Linked DNA regions of Homo sapiens. The protein of the gene in region 4 purifies or fractionates together with the protein of the main gene of each other region. This does not show direct contact. Each region holds a gene or a part of one and is shown on either strand. Other genes may lie near its edges. The genes, in order: MNDA, BPIFB1, GCA, CYP3A43 and LCP1.

Evidence for each region.
Region 1: the proteins of CYP3A43 (region 4) and MNDA purify together in Homo sapiens (affinity purification with mass spectrometry; one large-scale study listed by BioGRID and IntAct). This does not show direct contact.
Region 2: the proteins of CYP3A43 (region 4) and BPIFB1 purify together in Homo sapiens (affinity purification with mass spectrometry; one large-scale study listed by BioGRID and IntAct). This does not show direct contact.
Region 3: the proteins of CYP3A43 (region 4) and GCA purify together in Homo sapiens (affinity purification with mass spectrometry; one large-scale study listed by BioGRID and IntAct). This does not show direct contact.
Region 5: the proteins of CYP3A43 (region 4) and LCP1 purify together in Homo sapiens (affinity purification with mass spectrometry; one large-scale study listed by BioGRID and IntAct). This does not show direct contact.

What each region holds. Positions count from the first base shown.
Region 1 is NC_000001.11:158,840,306-158,846,272, reverse strand, and holds part of MNDA (myeloid cell nuclear differentiation antigen), read right to left. Parts: intron 5,959-5,967; exon of another isoform or gene 5,877-5,958; intron 4,140-5,876; 5' UTR 4,120-4,139; coding exon 3,855-4,119; intron 2,995-3,854; coding exon 2,858-2,994; intron 2,319-2,857; coding exon 2,151-2,318; intron 687-2,150; coding exon 270-686; intron 1-269. UniProt on the Homo sapiens protein: May act as a transcriptional activator/repressor in the myeloid lineage. Plays a role in the granulocyte/monocyte cell-specific response to interferon. Stimulates the DNA binding of the transcriptional repressor protein YY1.
Region 2 is NC_000020.11:33,288,275-33,294,241, reverse strand, and holds part of BPIFB1 (BPI fold-containing family B member 1 precursor), read right to left. Parts: intron 5,502-5,967; coding exon 5,360-5,501; intron 4,358-5,359; coding exon 4,250-4,357; intron 3,286-4,249; coding exon 3,136-3,285; intron 2,336-3,135; coding exon 2,254-2,335; intron 1-2,253. UniProt on the Homo sapiens protein: May play a role in innate immunity in mouth, nose and lungs. Binds bacterial lipopolysaccharide (LPS) and modulates the cellular responses to LPS.
Region 3 is NC_000002.12:162,356,858-162,362,824, reverse strand, and holds part of GCA (grancalcin), read right to left. Parts: coding exon 5,920-5,967; intron 3,782-5,919; coding exon 3,668-3,781; intron 3,332-3,667; coding exon 3,273-3,331; intron 2,609-3,272; coding exon 2,582-2,608; 3' UTR 1-2,581. UniProt on the Homo sapiens protein: Calcium-binding protein that may play a role in the adhesion of neutrophils to fibronectin. May play a role in the formation of focal adhesions.
Region 4 is NC_000007.14:99,829,836-99,835,802, reverse strand, and holds part of CYP3A43 (cytochrome P450 3A43), read right to left. Parts: intron 1-5,967. UniProt on the Homo sapiens protein: Exhibits low testosterone 6-beta-hydroxylase activity.
Region 5 is NC_000013.11:46,146,621-46,152,587, reverse strand, and holds part of LCP1 (plastin-2), read left to right. Parts: intron 1-1,509; coding exon 1,510-1,652; intron 1,653-3,779; coding exon of another isoform or gene 3,780-3,971; exon of another isoform or gene 3,972-4,073; intron 4,074-4,140; coding exon 4,141-4,236; intron 4,237-5,484; coding exon 5,485-5,680; intron 5,681-5,967.

The DNA.
Region 1 (5,967 bases), on a different chromosome or scaffold from region 4:
CCCTGTATTGTCCTAGTTCATTGTGGCTGACAACAGATCATTACTGCCAATATTTCTTACTAACTTTTTTTCAAAGTCCCTACATTTATTTTGGCGTAAGAAAGTTAATAGGTCACTTAGTCCTATTTCCTATTTTGTGGGACAACTTCATCACTATCTCTAGTCAATATAAATTCTTGTGTTCCAATATTCAGACAGTAAGTCTGGCAAATTAAGACATTTATTTCCAGGTAATGGTAGAGAAAATTAAAACAAAATTAAGGGTTTACCTTTTGTAACATAAACAACCCATACACCATTGTTCCAGATGCTTGCTTGTAAAGTTGACTGATCTTGGGAGTTTTATTTGCTATTTCGATAATTCTGTTTGGGACCTCAAAATTTTGATTAAAGTCAGACACAGATGATGCTTCCTTTATTTCCATTACTCCTTTACATTCAGAGTAATCAGATATGGTAATGACCTTCTTCCTTACAAATTTCTCTTTCAAGTTGATGTCGAAGACTTTCACATGGAAATATTGAGTCTTACTGGCCACTGTAGCATGAAACATTGTGCTTTTCCCATTTTCTGGGGACTCGTATTTAAATGGCGCTGTTGCTTTCAGTACCACCACTGTCACTGGGTCGTTTTGGGGAACATTTCTTCTTGCATCCACCTGCCGTTGGGCCTGGGTTTCCTGATTCTGTGTTGGGCAGACACAAGAAAATAAACTTAAAACTTTGAGCAGGAGGCCGGGCGCGGTGGCTCACGCCTGTAATCCTAGCACTTTGGGAAGCCGAGGCGGGTGGATCACGAGGTCAGAAGATCGAGACCATCCTGGCTAACATGGTGAAACCCCCATCTCTACTAAAAATACAAAAAAAACTAGCCGGGCGTTGTAGCGGGCGTCTGTAGTCCCAGCTACTCGGGAGGCTGAGGCAGCAGAATGGCATGAACCTGGGAGGCGGAGCTTGCAGTGAGACCAGATCGCACCACTGCACTCCAGCCTGGGCGATAGAGCGAGACTCCGTCTCAAAAACAAACAAACAAACAAACAAACAAACAAACAACAACAAAAACTTTGAGCAGGAATACAAAGTCACTCTGCACGAGTGACTCTGCAGAGCTTTCGACCCAACAACTTTCACAGATATTTGGAGCTGGGGGCTAGGCTAGACAGGGATTACTGAACAGAAAGGAAAGGCACATGAGCTGGTAAAGTTTAGCTACTGAAAGCCTAAGGTAACAGACAACAGGCTTGGAAATTAAATCACCCTCATTGACTCAGAATAATCTTCCTGAAGCAAAGCATGATCTTCTGCATGAACAATCTAGAGTAGCAGATGATGAAAACATTGTTGTGAAGAAACTTTAAAGAAAGATTAGAATATAATAACAAATCCAAATATCTCCTCTACCTACTGAAATTATCAAAGACAATCAACAAAGTGAAAACAACTTGGACAGCATTAAAAATGAAGAACCATGCCCACCAGAAGCCTCAAACATCATTAGATGTTCTAATGATCAAACATTCATTAGAAATTCTAATGATCACTAGTGTACTCTGCCATTTTGAGGGCCAAACTCGTTTGTTTCTTCCCAAGAAACAGTGCTTTTACAAGTGGAAAGACTTGGCCTGGCTAGCATGTAAGTAGTCTCAGGTAGAGGATTTCTGGTTAGAGCTATGTCCTCGACTGTGTATACACAGCATTTCACAGTGGCTAAAATGCTAACAACAATGGAAAAAGGACAAGTTTGTTTATCTCGTATGTCCTCTCTCCACAGTGTCCTGGCCTATTTGAGTTGCAGCAGAATACTTTTCTGAAGAGAACGTTGGCAGATCTGTAATAGGAAGTGTGGGGAGCAAAGATGAGCCATGGGCTTGTATGTACTGGTACTAGGAGCCAGGCTACTTACCTGCACAGACCAGAAATGCTTAGTGGTCTGTCCTGGTGTTTTACACACAGTGATTACCTGTAGGTAATTGGACTTTACTTGCATGTGGCTTCTCACCAATGTAAACAAGTTATCATAATATGGAAAACAGTTTTCCCACAGCAAATCAGTAATATGAAGAGTTATGCATGAGAGTAACAATAGTAACAGTGGAATGCACTGTGACTGGGTTAAAAAAAAATGGAGAAGAGGACCAGGAAGAGTGTACCGGAGTAAACGAAGTGTTGGATGGAGTTGATGATGAGGTCTGGGGTAGTGGGGGATGATCCACAGCTGCAGATGTGCTGGCTCCTGAGGGACCTGGGGGCTTACTCTGCTCTTGGGACACCTTATTCCTTTTGGCTTCAGTCTTTTCTTTGTTTGGAGTTTTTCTTTTCTGAAAGTAGTTTAATTTTCCTGTTAATGGAGTTTAGTATCAAAAGAAGCAGAGCAAGTTTTCATTTTTTCATTACAACATAGTAAGTTCTATTTATGTTGGATGGGATGTCCTTGGAAACCCCAGGGAATTACAATCTGTCACTTGAAGATATGGACAATAGATAATATTGGGCATAGATTGTTGCACTAAAAAGGAGATGGATGATTTCAACAGATGCATTACTGTTATCACCACTGTGGTGTGATGAGAAGAGCACTGGACTTGGAATGAGAAAATCTAGATTTGTGTAAGGATGGGCAAGATGTATATCCAATATGATTATTACCCCATTTTTATAATGGAGATGATAATATATTTATGTCACAGAAATTTTTTATTACATTTTTACGATACCTAACTCTTTACTCATCACAAAGAAGATCCATAATTACTAATTTGGTAAATCTAAGCTGTGTTGAGATATTAGTAAAGAGCCACGTGCCATAGCAGAGTATCTTCTGTGAGGCTTCAGTCCTGCTCCTCTTTCTCAAGCTTACCTGAGCTACAGGAATCCTCCCTCTTGCTTCCGATGTCAGTTTGTTTCTTGCGGTGGGTGCAGGTGCCGCAAGACCCACTTCTTCCTGGTTTATTTTTTTCACTGGAGCTTTTTCTTGTGTTTTAATTTTCTTAGCAACTGACAAAAGAAAAGAAAAAGGGCACAATAGGCCTAGAGTGGAATAGCTTATCTAAGACAGCTGAGGCAGTTTCAATATTACCTGCTGTCAGCTCCTGCATGAGAGTTCGGATTTGCCTGTTACCTCTACTGCATTAACCCAGCCTGGCTCCTAGGAGGCCAACAGCAGCATGGTAGGCATAGGCACTGTCTCATTCTCCTCAGTGCTTTACTCACTCCTCCCCTTTGCAGTGAGAACATGCTTCCTTTCCTGTGAACTCCATGTGCCTCAATCAACCCTTTCTCAGTCTTGTTCTCCTACCATTTCTTTTAAATATCTAAGGCTTTCATGATGCTGACAGGCTGGTCATGTTCTGTGCAATATCTGTTCAAATGACAGAAATATGACCTGAAAGGAAATATGATCTGAATTGTAATGTGGCAAAGTGCTAATATTGGCTTTTGAATTAAAAAAAGAACAGTGATTTATTAAGTGGAAAAATTCTACACGTCTCTTAATAGAACTATTGCTGCATAAATTGGTTAAATATAAATATTTCAAATAAAACACATTTTTTAAAGTAGCTTTTTTTTTCATTTTCTGACATTTTTGATTTACTGAAACACTCACCGTCTCATAAATCCCTGTCTTTGGTTTTTTATCCTTACCTCAAATACATTCTTCTAAATATATCAATCTCTTTCATATGAAACAGAATGTTCTAAATTGCCAACTGGTCAGTCTCTGAGGTGCCAACATCCCCATGACTGCTGAGTTATAAATTGGAAAAGGGATGTACCAGCTATGACCAAGGTGGGGTTCTACTGAAGACTGGGGAGACTCAAGGCAGAGTAGCTATGTGCAAGGTTTTCTCTATTACCTTTTGACTTCTCTTTTCGAAGATTGTTAACAAGGTTTTTAAGTGATGGCATATCTTTGGCAAGTTCTATTAGTTTGTCTAGACAGGCAACGCCTTGGAACTTTTTTTCCATCAAATCTGTAATCTTAATTCTGTTGTATTCCTCTTGCATTTTTGTAGTTAGTCCTAAATCATAGGCCAGTAAGGACTTAATTGATGTAAAATGATAATCATCCATGAGCTCAAATCCTTTCAGCAAAAGAATTTTCTTGTATTCATTCACCATTTCTGATGTTATAGCTTGGCCTATAAAGTAAAAATGACACACAACATTACACATTTATGCAGACAATTTTAAAAAATGAGATATGCTTTTGTGAGTGAGTGTCCCAGGCCAAAATGTTGTCCTTGGATGCGTATAAGAAAAAGGGACTAAGTTACCAGATATGTCACTGTGAACAATGGATCAAGACTTGCTTTATTAGGAGGTTCAGTGAAGTTCTTCCCTTTTAATGTTGATAAGTTGGGACAGAGGTGTATGTGGTGAAATGATGTTTGGAAACAGGTAATTGTTGCAGTATTTATAGTATGGGTTTTGTGGTGTCAAAGTCCCTGGTTCCTCTTCTGATATTTTATTGGGGCCTGAGCCTATCCCTCAATGCCTACCTCTTGGTTCCTGATTCTTCCCTGATTCTTCCCTGATTCTTCCTGGTCATCCACTATGACCAAAGTGGCCTAAGTATAAATGGGCTGCAGCCACTCACCTTATGTGAATAACCTTCTGCCACAGCACTACAGTTCTGAGTTGTGGAATGGACTCTAGTCCTTCTTGGCTCTCCCTAATCAGCTCTCGTTAGCACTTTTTCTCCCTGGGGCTTAGAACTTGTTCTCTGTGTCCTATGCATCTATAAAATTGTCATTTTGCCATCCTCCTATCTGCTCTCTAGTGTGGAATTGCAGCATTTATTTTTTGCACATTTGTTTTTTACAGTCAATTATTTACCTCCAACTAGTCTTACTTTTACTAAAAGGTTTCTGTCAGACAACCAAGTAGGTTTCTTTATGGATAAAGACATGACTCTATTTTTCCTGAAATCCTTCAATGAGTTTTGATTTTTATTAGTATAGATTTCTACTCAGCATGACTTGAAAGGCCTTGCATAAACTGTATCTTTCTTTTTGTGTGTGTCTGTTACTTTTGAATTTCTTATACCTTATGCTCTAGAAATACACAATATGTCTTTCTTTTTCAGGTCTTCTTACTGCTAATTCCCTTCCTGCTATCTGGGAAAGCATTCCCAGTTTTCTTCCTCTGAATACTTCCTTAGAGTTTTTAATGCTTAATTGAGGCTTTATCTTCTGCGAGCTGTTGTGGTCCCACTCTCACTTATGTGTGCCTCTTTAACCCCTTGTGTACTACCTAAGGGCATTCAGTTCCTAACGTATATTCCAATTTTCTGTTTAAATTTATAGGTATTCCTTTAGGTTGGTGACCATGTGTTTGTGCAACTTTTATATAATTAGAGTGTCCAAATTCTTAGGGCTGTAAATTGTTCTCTTTTGGGAGAACATGAGTGTTCCTGTGTTTAAACCTATCAGATAAAGAGAAATTTCACACATGGGCACATATAGTAAAGCCAAAGAATATTAAAAGCAAAATGATAAAATCTTCCAGAAATACTGAGTAGAACACCTACAAAGATTAAATAATCTGATTGAACAGTCTGCAGCAGGTTAAGAAAGTAATTTTTACATAGTACTGATCCATAATTATATGTCTGCAATTTTAAAACCTAAGAAGATACTGAAGGATGAAAAGATTTGTGCGGTTTGGGGGCTTGGGAAGGGATGAGAGTTAGCAGGGAAGTGTGGTAGCAAAATCATCTTGCAAATTAGAGATATAATGTGAAGTAATACGTGGCTGATATGGTTTGGCTATGTCCCAACCCAAATCTCATCTTGAAATATCATCTTGTGATAGTGAGCAAGTTCTCATGAGATCTATGGTTTTATAAACATCAGGCATTTCCCCTGCTAGCACTCATTCTCTCTCCTGCCACCCTGTGAAGAGGTGCCTTCCATCATGATTGTAAGTTTCCTTAGGACTCCCCAGCCGTGCGGAACTGTGAGTAAA
Region 2 (5,967 bases), on a different chromosome or scaffold from region 4:
CAGTATTGCTTCTGAAATTAACCTTTTAAGATCTTATTTGAGCTTTATTTAGTTTTTGATTATTCACTTATTTTTCCCTGGCCTCTTTAATATGTAGATATTTCGACTATTAAAATAATGGATCTTCCTTTGACTATACATGCTACTCTTAAGCTTTACTAGTGCAGAAGCAGAAGTTGAAAATCATAACTCCAGCTTATTAGAGAAACAAACGTAATAGTATATTGTACAGTTGATGTATATTTCACAAAATGGAGATTAAATGTTTTACTGTATTTTTCTTGAAGGTAAGGACATGGAAGCCAACTTGGAGAAAAATAAAAATCTCCATTGTTTTAAAGTACTCTTAATAAGAATCACATTGTTTATATAAAGCAGTGTTATTTATTTATTTAGTTTTTGAGACAGAGTCTTGCCGTCATGCCTAGGCTGGAGTGCAGTGGCACAACTGTGACTCACTGCAGCCTCAACATCCTAGACTCAAGCGATCCTTCTGCCTCAGCCACCTGAGTAGCTGGGACCATAGGGGCACACCATCATGCCCAGCTATTCTAATTTTTTATTTTTCTGTAGAGATGGGTTTCTCTGTGTTTTCCAGGCAAGTCGCAAATCCTGGGCTCAAGTGATCCTCCCGCCTCGACCTGCCAAAGTGCTGAGATTACAGGTGTGAGCCACTGGCCCTGGCCTAAAATACTGTTTTAAATATTGCTACTGTCATTTTAAAGTACTCTTAATAAAATCACATTATTTAAAAAAGGATTTGCTGGAATGTTTTCGTAAATTATTAAACCCAATGTACCTATTTAATAATTACAAGTATTGTATAATGACTTTGAAACATAGATCTGATTTAAAGGCTGACACCAAGAGCAGCCTCTTAAAAATACTAGTGCATGTGGATGGAGGTGGGAAGGCAATCTGCAAAAGATCAAAGCGCTCCTGGGTGAAAGTAAAAGGATTATGGATTTTTTTTCCCCAAATTTTTTCATTTATTACATCATCTTTTCAAAGAAAAAAGTCGCCAGGCACAGTGGCTCATGCCTATAATCCCAGCACTTTGGGAGGCTGAGGCAGGCGGATCACCTGAGGTCAGGGGTTTGAGACCAGCCTGGCCAACATGGCGAAAACCTTGTCTCTACTAAAAATATAAAAACTAGCCATGCCTGGTGGTGCTCATCTGTCATCCCAGCCACTTGGGAGGCTGAGGCATGAGAATTGCTTGAACCCGGGAGGCGGAGGTTGCAGTGAGCTGAGATTGCGCCACTGCACTCCCGCCTAGGCGACAGAGCAAGACTCTGTCTCAAAACAAACAAACAAAAACAAAAATCAAAGAAAAAAGTCTTATTCCAAGAAATATTAGCTATTTGACAAGGTGTTTTGACCCTAGATCGGGTGGCCCATTGTTACGAACACATCTTGGAATTTACAGTGGAAATCACTGGTTAATGTGGATGAATTCAATTTACAAAGTTTTAGTATACCTGTGACAAATAGGGGCAACTAAAATGAGAGTCACCTGTGTTTACTGACGCAGAAAAAAAATCCAACAGGACCTGGTGGGTGGTGCAGCCCTGAATACCACAGCCAGATTGATGTGTGACAGTGCCGTGCTAGAGCCAGCTTGTACTAGCTTTTGAGAACCAATTGTTAAATTTCCACAAATTTCTGAGCTGGGTGCTAAGCCCAGACATTGTTACAAATTAGACATATAAACTTACAATTAAATAAATTATATTAAAACAAATTTAATAAAAATTTAAAACGCATTGCTTCCTAATTAGTTTGCTGTATTTTACTACTATCTATTACTCCTGAGATCATGTTTATGTATCTGTTTAGTGGAAATATACAATCGTGTGCTATTGTATATCTTTTCCCAACTCTGTTCAGTGACATCACACTGGTCGCCTAAAATTGGCCCTGAAGGGAGTATTTCCACCAGGGAAATCCGCAAAAGCTACAAATCAGGTTTGCCTCCCTTCAACAACCCCTCCAGAGACAATTGCTAAAAATTTATCAGCACGTCACTGTTCACGGGCTCCTGGCTGACTTTTAGCAGTCCCATGACCTTGCCTGTCTGCCTGGGTCAATGGCCCACCCCACTCCATGACTCTTTGCTATCCAGCCCCAGATAATTCTTTCAGCAAAACCCACCCAAGGAGACTCCAGTCACTTAGCACCAACTTGCAGTTCCACCCAAGCCCCACAGGGGGCGCAATGCCCACAGGCCAGAGAGGCCCTGATTCCACTCACCTGGTTTTTCACTAGATTGGGCAGGGATGGCACTAGGAGGTTCATGACCTGCTTAGCTAAGGCGTTCACCAGGAAGGAGAGCCTTTCAGGGAAGAGAGCACGAGAGACATTAGGAAGGGTCAGAGATGATCACCCCTTCCTCTATTTTACAGAGGGGGAGGCTGAGTCTAAGGGAGGAAGGAACCTGCCCAAGGTCACAGGACGTGTTAGAGACGGGGCTGGGAGTAGCCCCTGAGCCAGGTGTAGGCAGTGGCAAAGAGTTATCAGAAAGCAGCGGCTGGGTGTTGTCATTGGAACTTTATGCTGGGCATTGGGATGATGGGAGCTGGCATTTCTCCCTGTCCTCCTGCTAAGAAGGGAAGGGGGGGCGCCATGTTTTTTGGCACCACCATGCGCGTGCACTGTTCTGAGTGCTTGATGGCTGTTGTCTGATCAGTTTTCTCACCACTGCCTGGAAGGTGTCATTACCTGCACTTTACGGGTGAGGAAAGTGAGACACAGGGTGGCCACTTGGCCATCATCACCCGGAGAGCAAATGAAGAGAATGTGTTGGCCTGACCCAAAGCCTATGTTTTTGCCCCTGGCTCCACCTACACCTGCCCTGGTGTTTGGAGGAGTTTCTAGGCCTCCCCCTTCAAAGATTTGCCCCACCTCCCGGTGTCATGCCTGAAACCCACCATGGTTGCTTCTGACCTTGATGTCCTGAACTTCCCTTGGCATCACAGATTCCCTGGAAGGAGCCCCAGATCAGGAATCAGGAGGGGATAAGTCCCTTTCTTTCTCTAGGCCTCAGCGTTCTCCATTTGTAAAATGGGGGAAGTCCACTGCCTGGCGTTCCTTCCAGGCAGGATGGGAGCCCGGCTGGTGGCCAGCGACACTCACTTATGCAGCAGTTGGATGCGCAGGCTCCCATGGCTGGTGGCACAGTCACTGAGGACCAGGCGGGTGGGGCCACTTGCACTGGTGTCCATGCGGATGGTGGCTTGGGCCTCAGTCGTCATGTGGAACTCCACGATGGTCTTGACCAGGGGCCTAGCGGGTGGAGGCACCTGACCATGTGAGCACCAGGCAAGCTCGGGCTGGAGCAACCCTGCCGTCCGTCTCTGTCTTCCAGCCCTCACCTCCTTCCTCAGTCTCCTTTGCTGGTTTCTCCTCATCTTCACCCAACTTCACCCCAGCATGTCCCAGGCTCAGTTTTCAGACTCCTCTTTGGTTGAAACGTCTTTCGTCTGCTGACAGCTTCCAAACTTACCCCCAGCCCCCTACTCCGATGTCTCACGGGCTTCTCAAGTTTAGCGCATGCAACACTGGACTGGCTCTTCCCCAGACCTGCTCCTCTCATGGCCTTGCCTGTCTTGGTTACTGACCACTCCATCCTGCCAGTGGTGCAGGCAGAACTCTTGGAGTCATCGTTGACTTCTCTCTCTTTCCCCCTGAATACACATGCATATTCAGTTCCCCGGGATATCCTGGTGTCCCCACCTACCTCCAAAACATATCCAGAATCCAATCAACTTCTCAGCACCTCCCTGCCCCAAACCCTGGTCTAAGCCATCATTATCTCCTCCTGAATTGTTGCAGTAGCTTTGGGATAGCCTTCCTGTCTCCACTCTTACCCCCAGAAAGTCTTTTTTCCCCACAGCAGCCAGGAGTCTTTAAAAATGTGAAAGCACAGCATATCCCTCCTCTGCTCAGAATCCTCCCTGGCTCCCGTCCTACTCAGCAAAAGCCAAGTCCTTATCTTCTCCCAAGAGGCCTTGTATGATCTGGCCTCGGCTGCCTGCTGGCCTCATCTCCTACCATGCCCCCTCTCTCTTTCCCCTGTCTTTGCCATTCTTTGAGCAAGGCAAGTACACTGCTGCCACAGGGCCTCTGCACTTGCTCTTCTCTCTGCTCGGAACTCTCTTTTCCAGACACCTGCATGGTGGGGGCGGGGGAGGGGGAACGAGCAGATGAGCCTGTCAAGCCTACTGTACTTGATGGAGGGGTCACTCACGTGTTGAATCCAGCCACCATGTCCAGGGGGATCTTGACTAGCAGCTCCTGGTCATTGGCCGAGGGCTTCACCTGCAGCTGGAGGATGTTAGCTGTGATGACCTTCAGCCTGGATGGGGTTTAGGAGAGATCAGAATCATGCCTCCGGCTCATTATTCCCAAATCCACTCCCTCTCTATCTTTTCCATCTCCCTGGGGTGCCTAGGCAGCAGCGGGACCCTGGCCCTGCCCACCGACTCCTCTCCAGATGGTCTTGCCTCCATCCCTCCCCTCCACTCCTGCTCACAATGCTATTATGGTGCCTTCTCTTCTAGGTGGTGACTCCCAGCTCCTTGAGCTGACTCATAAGACCCTCTGTGACCTGACCCTGCTGATCCCTTACTCCTTGCCTTGAGGTTTGAGCTCTAGCCATTCTGACCGACTGTCACTTCTCCATGCCTTTGCCCAGCCTGATTCTTCTACCTGGATGCCATTTGCTTCTTGTCTCCTGGTGAGCATTGAGTCATCGGCTCCACTGTCACCTCCAGTGAGAAGCATCACCTCATCCCTTCCCTGTGCCACCCCAGACAACCTTGCTCTGGGTTGTTTTTTTTTTTTTGTTTTTTTTTTTTTGAGACAGAATCTCACTCTTGTCACCCAGGCTGGAGTGCAATGGCACCATCTCAGCTCACTGCAACTTCCACTTCCCAGGTTCAAGCGATTCTCCTGCCTCAGCCTCCTGAGTAGCTGGGATTACAGGCTTCTGCCACCATGCCTGGCTAATTTTTATATTTTTAGTAGAGATGGGGTTTTGCCATGTTGGCCAGGCTGGTCTCGAACTCCTAACCTCAGGTGATCCACCCACCTTGGCCTCCCAAAGTGCTGGGATTACAGGCTTGAGCCACCGTCCCTGGCCTTGCTCTGGGGTTGTTGTATTAGGGTTCCTGTGTCACTGTCTTATGGTTCTTGTTAACTATTCTGGGAGCTTCTTGACGGAGGGGCTTTGTTTGATCCACTCTTTGTGATCTGACACAAGTCGATGCTTGCAGACTGGTTGACTGAGCATGCAGAGCGTGTCCCGGGCAAAGGTGTGGGAAGGGGCTAGCTCCTGGTGTGGTCCTGCTCCACTCACCAGATGATGTGCTTCAGGACGGTGTTCACCAGGCTGCCCAGCACAGGGATGCCTCCGGCTGGCTTTTCCCGCATGGCACTGAGCAGCGGCAGCTGCTGCAGGATGCTGGTGGCGTTGTGGTCCTTCAGCTCCTGTGTCAGCTCTGGAGGCAGACCCCAGGGATTAGGGCCCAGGAGGAGGGGCAAGAAGGAAGGCTTGGTGGGAGCTCCAGGCTGGGGAGGGGTATCACTCGAGGCTCCCTGAGGTAAGGCGAGGGTGTAGCCATCTCTACTGTGGTGGAGGTCAGGACCAGCCTGCCAGTCCCCACTGTGTAGATGTAGCCTTGAGGACAGTAGCCCAGATGGGTCGTTTTCACATCAGGAGCGAGGCTGGGACCATTCACACCCCTGAGCATTGCCAGCCTCTGTGGGGAGTGTCGGCCACTGCACTCAGCACCTGGACCTGCACTCATCCCCTGAGCCAGTTGCAAGCATTTCTAGGGCCAACAGGCAGGGAACCCTCAAAACTCTGTTTGGGGCTGTTTTGCTGCCAAAGCACACTTGTTAACAATTGTCTGGCATCCATATCCTATGGATGTGTTGTCCAAAAAGCCTCAAGTGCTGAGCAGA
Region 3 (5,967 bases), on a different chromosome or scaffold from region 4:
TCCATACTATTGATTTACCCTTGATGTAATTTAAAATGTGTAAACTGCCACTCAGAATAGAAGTGCAATACCTGACATTTAATAATTTGGCAGTCTTTTAGATATAGGTGAATTACTGCACTGTTATTTGAACTGAAGCATCTCATAATATATATATATGTAACAGATTTTGTATGATACAAAACTTTACAGCAAGCTATTTGAATGTTTATTAAAAAAATTCTCAAAATGACATGGAAACATGTTTACTGTATAAATAAAAGCACTTATACATTAAGAGTGTACATTATTCAATAATTTACATCATCGTAAAAGAACTGGGGTGTAAGTTAACCAGTGCAAACTACTATACTATATTCATATTACAGTCATGTTCATCATAAAAATATCAGTTATTTTTAAAGCATCGAAAAAGTGAACTGTATTTCAGTATAAAAATTCTGGTAAAATATTCTCTAGGCCTAATGTTTTTGTTAACATAAGTTTGTCTGTTTAATGTAAAGTGCAGAAGAGTTGCCTGGCAATTAAGTTGGATCGGCATAGAATGTTAGGTTTTGCTAGAGAAAGGGGTTCTGTGGTCAAAAAGTTTGGAAAAAACTGGGTCAAATAAAATTAAACATGACTGATTTTATTAACCTTGGGGTTTCAGATGCTAATATACCTTGTCAAGCTTTAGAAAGTGAGAGTTTCTAAATATGTTTGGCCATGGAAGCTCCTTCATAGACCTTCTATGACCAAAAGTCATAAGAACATTTTTAAATGAAAATTGTGTTAAAGAGTTCTAATATAGAGTGTCACCTGGCAGAAGCTTACATGAATAATACCATTTGTCATTTTAAAAGTTTTACCTCAACTGTGAGCCTCCAAGTAAGAGAGATAATCATAATCGACCGCAGAATAGTTCAGTAACGACCATCTGTATAACCTGGATGTTAAGATTACAGGTTGCTGAGCGACATTATCACCATTCGATGTGAACGACACTTAGTGTTTTCACATTTGCTTTTTCCTACAACACTTCTAATTAGAATTCTGTTTCTTTAATTTCCCAGCTCAGTTAATGTCCTCTCACATTATCAAATATATGTTCATAAAAAAGCCAGAGAACAAAATTATGTGTATTACCTATTCACACATTTTTATAAAACTGACCAAGTGAATTTGACAGCAAATTATATAAAATTATCAGTGTCAAGTGACTATGCGTTACTTCCTTTCCAGGATTTTTTTAAGTGAAGGCTGATTTAAAATTCTGTAAGTTTATAAAAGATTTTGTTCAAGATATTGCCATCTATCCTCCATCCATTAAGAAACATGGGATTTTATAAAATCTATAAATTAATTTGGTCAGCAGTCATAAAATTATGTCACTCACTGTTAGGTTAGAAAATACACATTTAAAGCATAAGAAAAATAAGTGGTTTATTAAATCTTCACTAAGACAGACATGAGGTGTTTGCCAAGAAAGAAATTACATTAATTATAACATCTTATACCAGGGATATTAAACACTAAAGATCTGGTGATTCTACGTCGCATTTTCGGCAGTTTTAGTACCACGCAGAAAAGTTGCTGTGGTGCCTACTATGCTCAAAACACCACATCACATAGATGCACTCAAAATACTTACTGGGTTTTTAATGGCAAAGCCACCACTAATGTTAATGTTGTCAAATAAGTCAAATGTAAAATTTCTGAACAATTAGAGTGGTTAATTACTTGTTTATTTTTAAGTTTATAAAGAGTTGACATTACATTTAAACAACAATTTAATTAGGACAATTTTGAATGTTGACATATCATCAAAAACATATGCCATTTCTAAAAAGTCTAGATTCAGAGCAGGATGCCATTTTAGGTGAACTATGTCTTCACTAATGAAATAGGACGCAGAGAGAAATACTATGTTTATTAAGAACTTTTTGCTTAGAGAAGACAATAAAACATATTTAAGAAAAATATATAATACAAAAAATAAAAAAGGAAAAAACAATGCCTTCTGTAGTCTTATTTCACTACAGATTGAACTAGGGAGATAATTTTCTTCTTCACAGACAAAGATCTTTAAGTTTCTTTTCTCTGATTATTTGATCAAGGAACAAACTATATTACAAACATGGCACAAAATCCAGGCTTTCATTTCTAGCCAACCCTCAAACACCACCAACTACAAAGAAAATTTAAAAGTCTAATTTGTAACCTTCAGATAAGTATAAATTAGTTTTTTCTAGGCTTTCATTATTTGGCTTCTTATACAATCTATCTTGTAAAGTACATTCCTCTAAATTTACATTATCTAAAATTAAGGCTAAGCATTATTTAAATCAATTAATCATACAATATTTTATGACAATATGCACATATTTATAAAATAACTTTTCCAAAAGCAGTAATACCTCAAATTAAAAAAGAAATCTTTTATTGCTTTGAACTATCTGCTAAAATAAAAACACACAGAAAGGGAAGAGGTTTAACAGGTAGGAAGAACATAGAAAACCCTTAAAAGTTTTAAAGTAGTCCAGTTCACTTCTTCCAAACAAAAGAATTCACAGTGTCTCTTCAGGTTTAAAATTCTAAGCATTCAAATTGCCATAGTGCCCTGCAAAAACTAATACATAAGTGAAATTATTATCTATTAAGAATAAAATGGTTTTTAATTATTTTTGACTAATTATATTCCATAAGAGCATTTTCTTAAGAGAGAAAAGTTTGTTTCCAAGGCTTATAATTCAAGCCAATAAATATCAGTAATGTTGACCCCATAACTTCCATCAGTAAATATAAGAAAAACAAAACAAAAACCCTGAAACATTAAAGCACAGGTAAATATAACTGTCTTATACCTTGAATTTTAAAAAACCCTGAATATCAGGTTAATAGTAACCATTTGAAATGAGAAATGAACAGCTTCATAATCCGTCACGGATTAAAATTTTTCCCTCCCTGAGAAAAAATATCACTACAGTAAACTACCCTTTTTAAAAATAATGGTGGTTTTGGCCCTTAAAAGTGATTTGAAAGATCATTTTTTTTTTAATTCAAAAAACCTGTCATAAAAATTGAAAAGCATATTTACAATTTAACATGAAGTCAAATTGTTTGGCACCTATACCAATATTAATCTTATATTTGTGTTACACTGAAAAATATGGAAAAGTATGTGGCATACCAAATATATTATTTCCAGTACTGGTACTTGGGATCACTTAAATTTTTTTACTAACTGAGAACTATCTAGAATGCAGTATAAATATCAAAAGCAGGATACTCACATCGTCATATATGAAATTCGCAGACCCTTGTTGCAAGTGGTCTCTTTTCCTAAAGAAATCTTTAAACAAAGAAATTACTTTTTTATTGTAATTTAAAATACATAGTTTCAAATATTTAGTGCACCCAGGTACACAAAAAGAATAATTTCATATTCAATTAAATATTAAGTGATTGAATAGCCCTGGCAACAGAGATATGAGAAAAACTTCCAAAAATAACATAACGTTTTTATCATTTATATTCCTTAATATTTGAAGCCTTTAAACTAATTAGATTTAACAGTGAATAAAGGGAGAAAACACATATTATTATAAACTTGCTGGAGGAAATGAGACACATTATTCAAGAAAAATAGCTACATAACACTGTGCACTTAGTTTTAAATAGTCAATACCTGTCAATGCTCGAAGCTTCACACAGCAAGCAACATAATCATCAAAGAAAATTCTGCCATTCTTGCTATAACGTTTAACAATAGTAGTTAATGTTTGAGGACTCAACCTATAACCTAAAAAAGAGATAAATTAAAACTTCTAAATGTAAATAACATAAGAACACTGCAAGATTGCTTTCTCATTAAGTCATAAAATAACTTTCAAAATTCATTCCACAAAAATATAATTAGAAACAAAACACATGAATATTGAAATTCATCAGACAAAGGCTTCACTGTTAATCCTGTTAATCGGTATATAAATATCACAATTCTAACTTTGTAATAAAGTCAAAGCTAAGGAAAAGAAAATAATTCTCTTCTTATGAATTTATCATATATTGTTATTTTGAAATAATGTCTAATTTCATGGGTTTTAATGCTTCAATATTTCAAGTATGTAACTTTGTATAGTTCTTAAAGAATATAAATGCAAAGATTACTAATGATCTTTGTTATTCAAATGATATTTCCCACTGAACATATTACTTGCAAGTATCTTTTATAACTAAGAGAAATTTGAGGATCAACATGATTACTCTACAGGGGAAAAAAACAGAAAAACATTCTTTTTTGTCCTGGAATTCTTAGTGTTTCTTCATACACTGTAATAATAATAACAGCTTTCTCGCTATTTCACTGATTTCCTTGGTTCTTTGTTCAGTAGTCCTGTGATGTCCAAAATCTTTGATTTTTACTTATATCAATGAGAAAGAAGTTTTTGATCATTCACTCCCAGTATGTTTAAATTAATTTTAAATTCTATACATGTATTATTGTTTGATTACTCCTATTTTAAAAAATACATAAAATCTAAAATTTAAAACGAATACAACTGAATAAAAACATAAATTAATATATTCTACTTGCTGTACCCTTATAGATGGTCCTATGCATTTAATGAGATGTATACATTTTACTAAGAAGAATGGTAGCCCAGTATTATTGCCCATACATTACTGGATTTGTAGACTTGAACAAATGACACTAATCAATTCAAAGGTGAAAACAACCAAAATAAATGTAACAGGAGAAAATTATACATGCAGCTATAATAGAATGTAATGTGGGAAAGGTATAAATTGAAAGAAGCAGTAAAACATGCAAACTAATGTAATTATATGCAAATATATTTTGAACTTCATATTAGAGAGTTATGAGCTAAATGTGGTACTGATAAAATTCCTAGATTTTCCCATAGTATTCTCAGAAAAATAATTTGAATATTTTAAAATATACATGAAGATCTTAAATTTGGATAATCCAGAATACCCTTTTTACATTCCACTGCCTAACGGGAACTCTGGAGGTTTTCTTTTCTGCCAAAGATTACATTAATTTCCCAACATTAGGCTGAATTAAGGTCCAGGTTTAATCCATTAGGTATTAAGGATCTATAATTGAACTACATATGTTTATATGGGCTGGACTGTCCCTACTACTAAATTAAAATGTCTATTTATAAAACAAAACCAAACAAATCACTAATTTGACTTATTTAAATTGCAATTTGAGATAAGCCCACTTCCATTGGGTTCAGATTTTAACTTCCAAAAAATTAATTTTCATACAAATAGATTTTGTTTAGAAGAGTGTAAATCACAAGCATAAGAACAATTCATAAAGCTACTTAAAACTGCATTAAGTTTAAGCAAATTAAACACCATTGTATGTTATCCATTTTAAAAGTACACTAGGAACATCAGCTTATCAGAGGTATAAGAATAAAGTTATATACTTCTAAATTACTCTAAAATGCAACCTTTCCATCCTGATGTATTTTGGCACCTGCTATGTGTTCTGCACTATCTAAGAAAAAAAAGACAAAAACATGGTTTCTACCACTGAAAACCTATTTTGTACAGACTTTTGACTGACTGAGGCAAGCTTTGGCTCCCAATTAGATATCCTGCCAAGTTATAAAAGAATACAATCTAACTGGTAAGTACTAACAAAGAAATAAATTTAAACACAACAGAAGAAATTCAGAATGTATGCATGTATGGAAGATCATCTTTTGAAAAAAATCATAATTAAAATGGTTTTGTTGAGGTCTTTGGTCAGAATTTACCTACAACCTTGAAAACAAACAAAGGAACTTGCTGGCAAAAAAATACATCCCTTTATTAGTTAGTAAATTGAAGCAATTAAGTTCATCTAATCAAAGAACAAAGATTAGCTTTATAGATTCTAAAGAATGTTAATGTTCTTACCCATAAGACCAATGGCTTGACGCAACTCATGATGTTCTACTGTGCCAC
Region 4 (5,967 bases):
TAATGTTGTTACCATTTCTGCCTACACTAAAAGGGGAGAAATCTCTAGAAGGATGCCCACACTGTGTACACACTACCTGGGTAAGGAATACCATAGTCAAAACTCTACTGTACCATAACTACTATGAATGTGCAGGAACCAAGTTAGAAACCTGCACATACAACCAGACCACCTATTCAGTCTGTGACCCAGGAAATAATCAGCTATATGTATGTTATGACCCTAAGCTCTCACCCTATGAATTCTGGCTTGAGGTACATGTTAAATCAGAGGGAGAAAAAGAAGGAGAGCTTATAGCTCAAACCAAAGAAGCCCTTCCCCTCTATAACAGGCCTATTTCCTTGTATTTTGATGCCTACCATACCGCATATGTTCATAATCCTAAAAAACCAGAAGCAGTCTGCAATGGTTTGACACGAGAGGCTTATCAGCAGCAGTCCTAAACATCTGTACAGAGAATGACAAATCGGATGCCCAGACTGTAACATTAAGTGGTCTACACTGACACAACACCAACACCTATATTCAGGGAAGACTGTTCTGCTAAGTAGTATGTCAACCAAACCAGATCGTAAGACAAAGACATGCAATCCTTTAAATTTTACTATCTTAAAGCCAGAGCTACCTTTTTGGTCTACAGGACAGACAGCACTATTAAGAGTTGATAGGCAAGGAGCAGGCCTTAGAATTCCACTACTGATTGTCAAAAAGACTAGAAGAACTCAGATGTGTCCAACCCCACAATTCTGGGTTCATAAGTCATTCTATAAGCATTTTGATCAGCCGGTGCCCGAGCTTCCCCCATCAACCAAAAACTTATTTGCTCAACTAGCTGAAAACATAGCTGGCAGCTTAGGAATTTCCTCATGCTATGTATGTGGAGGAACTAATATGGGGGACCAGTGGCCATGGGAGGCAAAGGAATTAATGCCACAAAATAACTTCACTTCGCTTAACCCTACCAGTGAACCAACAGCCTCAACCAGTGTTTGGTTGTTAAAAACCTCCATAATTGGAAAGTACTGTATTGCCCAATGAGGAAAGGCTTTCACAGGGGCAGTAGGAGAAACAATCTGCCTAGGGCAACAGTATTATGATGAGACTAAAAACAAAACTCTATTGAAGAAATGCCCAGAACAACTCCTACTTACAAGATCAAAACCCTTTCCCTCCACTGTCTATTCTAAGCCGCACTTGGCATCGGCTAGAGGCTCCAAATGCTTAGAAAGCACCCTCTGGCCTATATTGGACCTGTGGAGCACAGGCATATCAGCTGCTGACTAAATGGACAGGGGAATGTGTGTTAGAAACAATCAAGCCATCCTTCTTTCTAATTCCTCTAAAGCCAGGGGAACTCTTAGGATATCCAGTTTATGATGAAAATAAAAGAACTAGAAGAGGCATAATCACAAAAATAAACACAAATATCAAAAAAGATGTGGACATAGGAGACTGGAAAGATAACAAATGGCCTCCTGAAAGAATCATTAAATACTATAGGCCAGCTACCTAGGTGCAAGAAAGGTCATGGGGGTACCGTACCCCCATCTATATGCTCAACTGCATCATAAGGTTGCGGGCAGTCCTTGAAATTATAACCAATAAAACATCAAGGGCACTAGATTTATTGGCAATACAAGCAACACAAATGAGAAATGCTATATATCAAAATAGGCTGGCTTTAGATTTCCTCTTAGCCTCAGAAGGAAGAGTATGTGAAAAATTTAATTTAACCAATTGTTGCTTAGAAATCGATGATAATGGCCTAGCTGTCATGAAAATCACAGCTAGAATGTGCAAGATGGCACATGTTCTAGTTCAGACTTGGTCCAGGTGGTCCCTGGATTCCTTATTTGGAGGATGGTTGTCAGCCTTTGGAGAATTCAAAACCCTCATTAGTGAGTTCTTGCTTATTTTTGGCATTTGCCTCATCCTCCCTTGCCTTTTACCCCTGTTTATTAGGAGTATTCAGTCAACTATAGAGGCAATAGTAGCCTGACACGCTACCGCACAGTTGTGGCATTAACCAGATATCAGCTGCTGCCGGTAGAAGAAAAAGCTCAGCTCCGCGAGGAGGTGGCAAATAGTGGTGCTTTCTATTAACACTTCTGTTGTAAAAAGCACCAAAGGGGACAATGGAACAGGAATTAAAAGAAATTAAAGAGTGCGTAAGCAGAAACTGAGTTGTATATGAAAAAAACCCAACTTCCCCTGAAAAAGAGAAAGAGCTGGAGTCTTTTAAAAACTAACTGCCTGTTTTTCTGAGGCTAGTGAGCCTTATCTCTCCTCCCTTCCCAGGCATTGCAAAGACCCTGTTTCCCTAGCTGTGCAGCTGCAAGGTCACTAGACAGATAAACTCAAGTCACAAAACGTGTTTTTCCTTGAAATGTAAGAAATGATGTAATGCATTTCTCAATTGAATAACTGTGTTTGTTTCTTACTTCTCTAGTATGCTTCCCTCTCCACAGATCTCCCCCCTCCCACGAAATGCTTAAAAGGTAACTAAACTCTTTGTTCAGAGCTCAGTCCTCTGGATGTTAATCCGACTGGGCTGGTGCACCTAAATAATTAATAAATATCCTCCTGAACCCCATCAGTCTCTCTGATTCCTTAAAATCCCACTACATTTCAATCCTCATCTTTTTTGCTGCCTCCTCTGTGAGACCCCAAAAAGTCACAATGATTAACTAAAAGCAGCTGAAGTCTGCATGATCCCAGTGCTAGAGTGAATGCTTAATAAATGTTCCCAAATTTGAGTGCCCTTAAGAGGTTCAGACTGGAATTCTTCCAGGGCATTTCATTCACGTATGTCTATTTAGTTAATTGATTCTTTCCTGATTTGGAAATTCTCTTTCTAGGTGTATTAGTCCATTTTCACACTGCTATAAAGAACTACCTGAGACTGGGTAATTTATAAAGAAAAGAGGCTTAATTGACTCACAGTTCTCCATGGCTGGGGAGGCCTCAGGAAACTTAAAATCATGGTGGAAGGTGAAGGGGAAGCAAAGCATGTATTACATGGAGGCAGGAGAGAGAGAAAGACAGAGAGAGAGAGAAGAGGTGTCACACTTTTTTTTTCTTGTTTTGTTGTTTTGTTTTTTTTTCTATTATTATTATACTTTAAGTTTTAGGGTACATGTGCACAACGTGCAGGTTTGTTACATATGTATATATGTGCCATGTTGGTGTGCTGCACCCATTAACTCATCATTTAGCATTAGGTATATCTCCTAATGCTATCCCTCCCCCCTCCCCCCACCCCACAACAGTCCCCGGTGTGTGATGTTCCCCTTCCTGTGTCCATGTGTTCTCATTGTTCAATTCCCACCTATGAGTGAGAACATGCGGTGTTTGGTCGAGGTGCCACACTTTTAAAACCATCAGATCTTGTGAGAATTCATTCACTATCATGAGAACAGCATGGGTGAAAACACCCCTATGATCCAATTCCTCCCACCAGGTCCCTTCCTTGACACATAGGGATAACAATTCAAGATGAGATTTGGCTGGGGACACAGAGCCAAACCATATCACTAGGTGAGGTTTTTTTTTTTTATCTTTTGAACTAATAATGAGTTTGTGTATCACTACATCCATTGAATTACAGAGGGTTACTGAGGCCCTTTGCTGACACCTTCTTTCCTGTTTTCTCAGAGGTGTTTATGCTTTTCCTTCCCTCTAAACACTGACCTTGTTTTAGGATCTGGCCATCCTTAAACATTCCTGCACAGAGGAGCTCTGGAAGAATCATAGTGTTCTTATTTCTATGGAATGACAACCATATTCAAGGCTTCCACTGGCTTCATAGAAATGTGAGCACCTTCCAGCTACACCCAAATCTCTGTGGTCAGATGATTTGATTGATATAAACTACAGTAAATGTGATTGACCTATATGTTCTCTGAATGGCACTATGCAGAGGAACCAATGACTAAAGAATAAATTTCAAGGCCATTCCTCCTCTTGTGCAATCTGGCCCTCCAACTGGTGATCCTTACTTGATAAGCACAATGCCAGTCATGCTCACTTTTTTTTTTTCTCAAAATGATCAGTCACACAGAGTCAGTTTACTGCTTCTGTACATCAACTATCCTGCAGGAAAACCCATTAAGTCTGGTGCTCCTTATGGCAGGCCTGCCTGCAACTCATCTTTGATGGGTTATGTGTGAACTCCATCAATTGCAGGTTCTGGATCCTTGCAGAACTTCCCACTCTGGTGTTACTGAGGGATGGAAGACTGGAGGAAAAAGAGAGGCTGCATCCCGCCGATGTAACCATGCAACTGCTGGTGCCACAAAGTAGGCCCTATAAGGGTAAGTTAGGAAAGTGTGGCTGAAAATTATGGTATGCATAAATAGTTTTAAATGCCCCTTATGTGCTTTCAGCTGAAAGAGAGGTCTTCCAAAATTCAGGAACATTTCTGTTGATAGAAAAGTTTCACTGTGCTACATAGCATAAGTAACCATAAAATATTCCAGACAGTTGAATTAGAAACTTGATTTCTCTTCTTTATAGGTTAGCTTTTCTTAGATCCTAAATATTCAGTACAAATAAATAAATCTTATAAAATGTGATAAAGCTGAAAAATTGCATGAAGAGAATGTGTTTGAAGGACCCCACAGTGGCACCCTGGCCAGGCCCAGCTGTTAGCTTGGTTCCCTCTTTGGGGATCTTTTCCTACTCACACATCGAAAATAACCTCTTGGGTTTCCAGTTGTTTATAATCCATTATCTGCCCATGCTAAATTCTGGTTGTTAGTCTAGGTAGATCAAAACTCATAGTCAATCAGAAAGCATCCCCAGGATTGAATGATGTCAGTAAACACTCTTAGTAACAGAAATTGGAAGTTGAATGAAGAGGAGGTGGATAATGTTTATTTACTTCTTCAACGGATCTGTGTAACATCTGTAGGGTCAAGAGAACATTCCTCTATGGAGGTTTGATATTTGAGTCTGAGAAATGAACTAACAGTAGATCAATTAATAGGAGATAATCCTTATAAATTTATCTCATGAATATGCATGGGAGCCTTGAAAGATATGATACTCAAAGAATGGCCTGATGATTGAAGCTTAAATAGCATTCTGAGCTATAAAAATGTAGTATCTTCTGATGGGGAGTGGGTGACACAAGACATGAGAGAGTGAGGGAAGAAAAAGCATGATAAACAAAAGTCATCTTATTATAATGTCTGTCAGGCATCAGTGCTCCAAAGAACAAGTATTATCAACCTTAGTCTCCCTTTCTGTGAGCTAATATTATTTTTTTCTTTTTTTTTTCTTTTAGACTAAGTTTTGCTCTTGTTGTTCAGGCTAGAGTGCAATGGCGCAATCTTGGCTCACTGCAACCTCTGCCTCCAGGGTTCAGGCGATTCTCCTGCCTCAGCCTCCCGAGTAGCTGGGATTGCAGGCACCTGCCACCACACCCAGCTAATTTTTGTATATTTAGTAGAGACAGGGTTTCATCATGTTGACCAGGCTGGTCTTGAACTTCTGACCTCACGTGATCCACCCACCTCGGCTTTCCAAAGTGCTGGAATTACAGGTATGAGCCACCATGCCTGGCCCTGCTAAGATTCTTTTTCATGAGATTATAGGGAGGGGGCTCAAGACCATTGCTTTTTTTTAGGAGGATCTTCCTTTAGGTATGAGAACTTCAGAGAAAGCCCCTTCCTATATTTTGGGAGAAATAGCAGGGTTGGGAGACAGGAGAACATAAGAGTTAGCTTGGTTCTGAAGACTTTCTGAGACCTTTCAATTTCCTTTGGTTCAAAGTCCTCAACATGCTTAAGTGCCATATTTTGGGGTTTCATTTTTGGAGCCCCAACTTTCCCCTGTCATAAACTTCCCTAGAAAATGTACATACTAAAGCTGAGTTGATGCTTGTGGAGAGGACAATTGAATTGGTAGCTGAGTCGCAAGGAATCACATTAAACCAGTATAAACCAGTCTCACATTCCTAGCAAT
Region 5 (5,967 bases), on a different chromosome or scaffold from region 4:
AGACCATAGACTAACAATAATGTTTGTTTGGAGCATAGGGCTCAGTCTTGAATGTTTGGCACTCTAACCTCAAGAGGTTTTTTCAGAGCTCACTTTGCCTTTAGATATTTGTAACAAATAAGAGGACTTTTAACTTGCACTTTGCGAAGTAAGCAACTCACATTCATATACTATAGTGAAGGTACCAGATTAGGAGGAACTTGGTCTATTTCTTATCAAAACTATAGAGGAAGGTATAGGTCAAAGGGTTCAAGGTTGCAATTATATGGGATGAATAAGTGGAGATCTAAACAGCACGAGGGCTATAGTTAATAATATTGTGCTGTATACTGGTAATTTGCCAAGAAAGTAGATTTCAGGCACTCTTCCTACAAAAAAGAAAGAAAGAAAGAGATAGAGAGAGAAATGAAGAAAGAAAGAAAGAAAAAGAAAGGTAACGATATGAGATGTGAGTATGTTAATTTGCTTGACCAACAGTAACCACCTTACTGTGTATGTGTCTACCAAGATAAGTATACCAAAACATCACGTTACACACCTTAAATCTATGCAGGCTAGAATAAACATTTTTAAAGACCGTAGAAAATTCCATTTAGGGTTTCAGAGTTCTCAACTAAATATGTAGCTGTCAATCTTATTGCGTCTTCTCTCACCATCTTATCTGTATGTAAACAGTGACAGCCCCCTGGCTTAGACAGAGGTAGCCCACCTTGATAAGTATCATGCAAAACACGATGTTATCTTTTAGTTATCAGGTACAAATCCTACCAATATGAAATCTGTAGTCAAGTTCTAATCTTTAGTTATACATACTTTTTTATTTATATGTCCAAATCACAATAACCAATGAAAAATCCTGAAATATTATTTAAAAACCAATGTATTAAACATAATATAAAGAAGGCGGGGGAGAGGAAATAGGGATCTTAGAACCTGTGAGAAAGAATATTGATCTTCAAATAATGACCTCAGCTAAATTTAAACCTTCTAGCTGAGCAAAAAAATACTTACTCATCTGGGAAAACGTAGAGGAGAGTTGATTACATTGTTGAGTTGCTATAATTAGGCAGGTAAGCACTTGAAATATAAAACACCTATGGGAATAGACAAGAGAACATTGTTATTATTACAAAATTGATCTCTTAAAAGCAAAAATGTTGTCATATTGTGAAATGTGGTTTGACAGACCCAGCAAAACATCCGAGCCAGTAGCCTTGGTTATTTTTATGGCTCTGCCCAAATGTTCTTAAACATAGCGTTGAGATTCACTGTGCTTTGTTTTCTCCATCTGGAAAATGGAGATAATAAATAAGCTCACAATGGCTTACGCCTCTTTTTAGGGAATAATAATAAAATATTTAATCCATGGGAAAGGCTACAAGAACCTTTACCCCAAAGAGGTAACGTTGTTATCTTTAGCTTTTTAGCAGAGCTTAATGAAAGTTATAACCAACCCCCCTCCCCCAACATCGCTGCATTTATTTTTCTGTGGTTTTTGTGCTTCTTCAGCTCTGATTGCTCTTTTGAGAGAAGGTGAGAGCCTGGAGGATTTGATGAAACTCTCCCCTGAAGAGCTCTTGCTGAGGTGGGCTAATTACCACCTGGAAAATGCAGGCTGCAACAAAATTGGCAACTTCAGTACTGACATCAAGGTAGGAGGAGCGTTGTTTGAACATGACTCTCTGCAGGAGTGAAGGGGAATTTGGGCAATAATAAAGAAAAGATAAAGATTTGGGGCTTCCTCTCTTCAGAAGTTCCAGGGTAGTCTGGTGCTGTTTTGGAGGTGCTCACTGTCCTTGAGAGCCCATCTGCTGCTCTAGTCCTGGGCCATACACAGACCTGCCCAGAGTCCTAGTGCAGTGTCTCGATTGGAGTTTCCATATCAGGAAGTAGAGGGACAAAGGTGAGCTAGAGGAAGAGCAAGAGAACAGTCTGCTGTCCAAGTAAAGGGAATATATGTAGGTCTGTAATGTCTCTGGTTTCATAAATGGGAGCAGCAGATGGGAATTCCCTGTAAAAAATTAAATGAAGATGACTCTTCTAGTTATACTAATAACAGCAAACATGGTGTCTGCAACATGCCAGGCACTGTTCTAACTGATTTATATGTGTATTCTCTTATTGAATCCTTACAACAACCCCATGAGGTAAGGGTTATTATCCTCTCATTTTACAGATAAAGAGACAAAGAGGTCCATAGGGGAAAGGCTGAGGCAGGAATACACTGTGGTTTTCAAGTATATGAAAAGTTCCCTGTCAAGGTGAAAGAAAACAGCTATTGGCAATGATGACAGATGGATGAAGATAGAAAGTGGTTAAGGAGCAGAAAGGAATGGAAAGCGGTCCCTAGAAGGAAAGAGTAGGAGATGCTGGGATGCAACACCAGGAAAATACTTCAGTCTCCACTTTCTCAAACATTAAATAACTTTTCCCCAAAGAGAAAGAGTCAGAGGAAAGTTCACATGACTCAACAGGAGTACACCTAGGCTTGTAATTCTTTGAGTAACAGTTTCCCACTGCTATATGACGTGCATTCAGTGGCATTTAGAACTCAGCGTGTGTCAGGCACTGTGCCAGTCAGAGTCAAGCTTCTAGATGGAAAGCCCCCATTTTTTAGGATCTAAGCTAAATCCATCTTTCTAACTATGCATCTTTCATGGGCTATTAACATTCTTCTAGCACCACCAACCGACCTGGGTTTTAACAGGAGCTGGCTGTCATGCTCTCCCTTTGTGCTCAACAGTTAAGCTCTGCAATTGCAAAACTTTTCAGACAAAATTAGGCTGTCAGATCTCAGCTGTAAATTTACCTAATTTCCTGTCATTAAATGGCTGTGTTCTCTAGAACCACCATTTTGTGCTTTGGGAAGTGTCTGTATGAGATAGGAGCTGGCCAGATGAGCACTTACTTATACAGTGTTGTGCCTGTTCTCTGGCAGCCGCTGCATGGCAACTGACTCCGTGCTGTCATGTGTATGTCTGAGTAGCCAGCCAGCAACCTTGGGAGATGTCTTTAAATCGTGTAAATTGGCAAAGGCGAGGAGAACACCCAGGCTAGAGTGAGTGAGAAGGTTCATGAGAGTCAGGTGAAATGAGGTTACTCTTAGCCAAACTAAAAAGATGTAACCCAGGGCAGGCAGATGGTATTGGTGCCTGACACCTGCATGTGACTTTCACTGACTTCAAAATAGCTACAGTGAAAAGTCAGAGAAGGGAGGGTAGATAGAAGGGAGATGAAGATCATTTTCCCCAGGTGCAACATCAATGATTCACACTCTCTGGTTCTCCTCTTTCTAATGCCAAAAGTGGTGAGCATACCTCTCCTCTGCCCAGGCCTTACCTACCCTAACCAGTTGTAGAAACAAAATAATAGCTGATTTTTCGATCTTTATGAGAAATTGAGATGCTATTAAATGATTTAAATAAACTACCTGAAAATCTGTATGCTTTCATTGACTAAGAATAAATTTATATTTTAAGACTATAATTCTGAGAATTCTTTTTGTCAATAAGCATATTTTCAGAATCTAAGAAAACTTGAGAATTCAATACCTGTATCTAATCTGCTATAACTAAATTGAACCATTTTTCTAGCTTCTAGATAAATATGAAATGCACTTTTCTTAATATTTCTCCTTTTACGTAAAGATTGCTTGTTAATGCTTCAATCTTCTGTCTTTGACATCTTTTTCTCTTGCTGATTGTCCATTTAAATGTATTTTAAACTCGCTTTAAACTTGTGCTTCCTTTTTCTGTCACTTTTTTTTAATTAAACCTTAGCTGACTGACTTCTACAGCAATATAAAGGTATATATATATTTTCCTGTATACAATTTAATTCATGTAAATAAGTTGTTTTTCTCCCCTAAAGACAACAGAATAATATCCACTTCTTTAGGGTGCCTTTTGTGTATATCTTGTCTATTTTATTGTTACGCTCCTTTTAAAAAGAAAAGCAAATGTGATATGTAAAGAGACAAATAGAACATTCAAATTAGTGAATGTTTCTAGCTTTGTTAAGTTACATTCTGGAATGATAGCTGAATATGAAATAAAATGTTTGCTTTTGGGAAATCATTGTTATGCTAAGTATGTAATTAGCTGTGCTATTTTGAAATTGGAATTTCTTAATTTCTCACAGGACTCAAAAGCTTATTACCACCTGCTTGAGCAGGTGGCTCCAAAAGGAGATGAAGAAGGTGTTCCTGCTGTTGTTATTGACATGTCAGGACTGCGGGTAAGGCCAGGTCCCAGTTGTGTTTGGAGAATATGATGCTATTTTCATGTTGGCAGTTCCATTACCTTGTGTGGCCCTGATTCTGGAGTTCCATGACTGGGCATTTCTGCCTAAAGCCCTGTTAAAACGGTAAAACTGTGAGCAGTTTGGGATAATAATTGATGAAAACTGAATCTGGAAATACAACATTAAAGAAAGAAACCAATAGTAATTAAACACCATCCAGCATGCTAGGCAATTCTATATATGTTCATCATTTAGTAGACTCTATAACCCCACATGGGTCTGAATGTTATAATAAAACTTCTGTTTTGCCGCCACTTTAATACTGATCTTGAGAAGTCTCTTTGCCCGTTTCTGTGCCTCATTTAATATCACTGGAGTTAAATCCAATGAGTTCATGTTGAAGTCAACTGATTCCTAATGAGAAGTAGAGTAAAAGTAAATGACAAGTAAAGCTCATGAAATGCATAATGTGTAGCGTTATCTAGTAAAGGGTCATATTAAGAAATCATCCTAATTTAAAGTTTTGTTTTCTGAAAATTGGTGGTTTCATGTACTTTAAGGACAGTGGGCCATATTTCAGCAAAATTTTAGGGTTAAGAGTCACTTACAAATGGCTAGAGATTCTCTAGAATTATTTGAGCACATTGAGTGGTTCAAAATCTGAAGTCTGCAAAAATAAAATTGATATTATATATTTATCAATAATAATACATAGGTTAACTGATAAAATTTATTTTATTTGGGTTGCAAGTATACCAACTCAATGTGGAGACAGTGGTTATGCTAATCATATGTTCTTACTGGCAAGTGTAAATATCTTTTGTGAACTGGTTATGGGAATATAAATTAATAAATAAAATTTTTGATAGACAATCTCATGTCATCTGTGCACACAAATAATAAAAAGGAATCTTAATGGTTGGAAATAATTAAGATAAACTCAAATGATCAGTTTTCAGAATCTACTGCATCTCTTTTGAAACAGAGCAACCAACCACTCATCTGAAATAGTTTGATAAAGGAGATGAGAGATCCTTGTTACTTAACCTCTGAGATTCCTTTTACTTGTGACTTTCTGATTTTGGTGCAGGTGCATATAGGCAATAATGTGCTGTTATTAAGTGTCTGCCTGAGATAAACACTAATGATTTCAGTGAGATTCCCATTTCTTTTCACATTATGCAATCTGCTTTGTGCATGGAGAGCCTTGACCCAGCCCTGAGACATCCTTTTGCATTGCAGGAGAAGGATGACATCCAGAGGGCAGAATGCATGCTGCAGCAGGCGGAGAGGCTGGGCTGCCGGCAGTTTGTCACAGCCACAGATGTTGTCCGAGGGAACCCCAAGTTGAACTTGGCTTTTATTGCCAACCTCTTTAACAGATACCCTGCCCTGCACAAACCAGAGAACCAGGACATTGACTGGGGGGCTCTTGAAGGTAACTGTAAACGATTTGCCTAAGATGGGGAAAGGCACTCACAATTCTAATTCAATGGCAATTCAAACTCACTTCCTAAGCAAATATAAACTATTTACATGTGCAAACAGGCCATTAATTCTCTGGTATGCAACAAAGAGAATAAATAGATTCATCAAGTCAATTTCAGCCAAGCAGGAATAATCAAATACCATTCTATCACGTCCATTAACAAAGCGTTCATCCATTATCAGAATTAAATGTTTTAGGAAAGATAATGCATTTAGTTATTAGATGAAATAAATCCT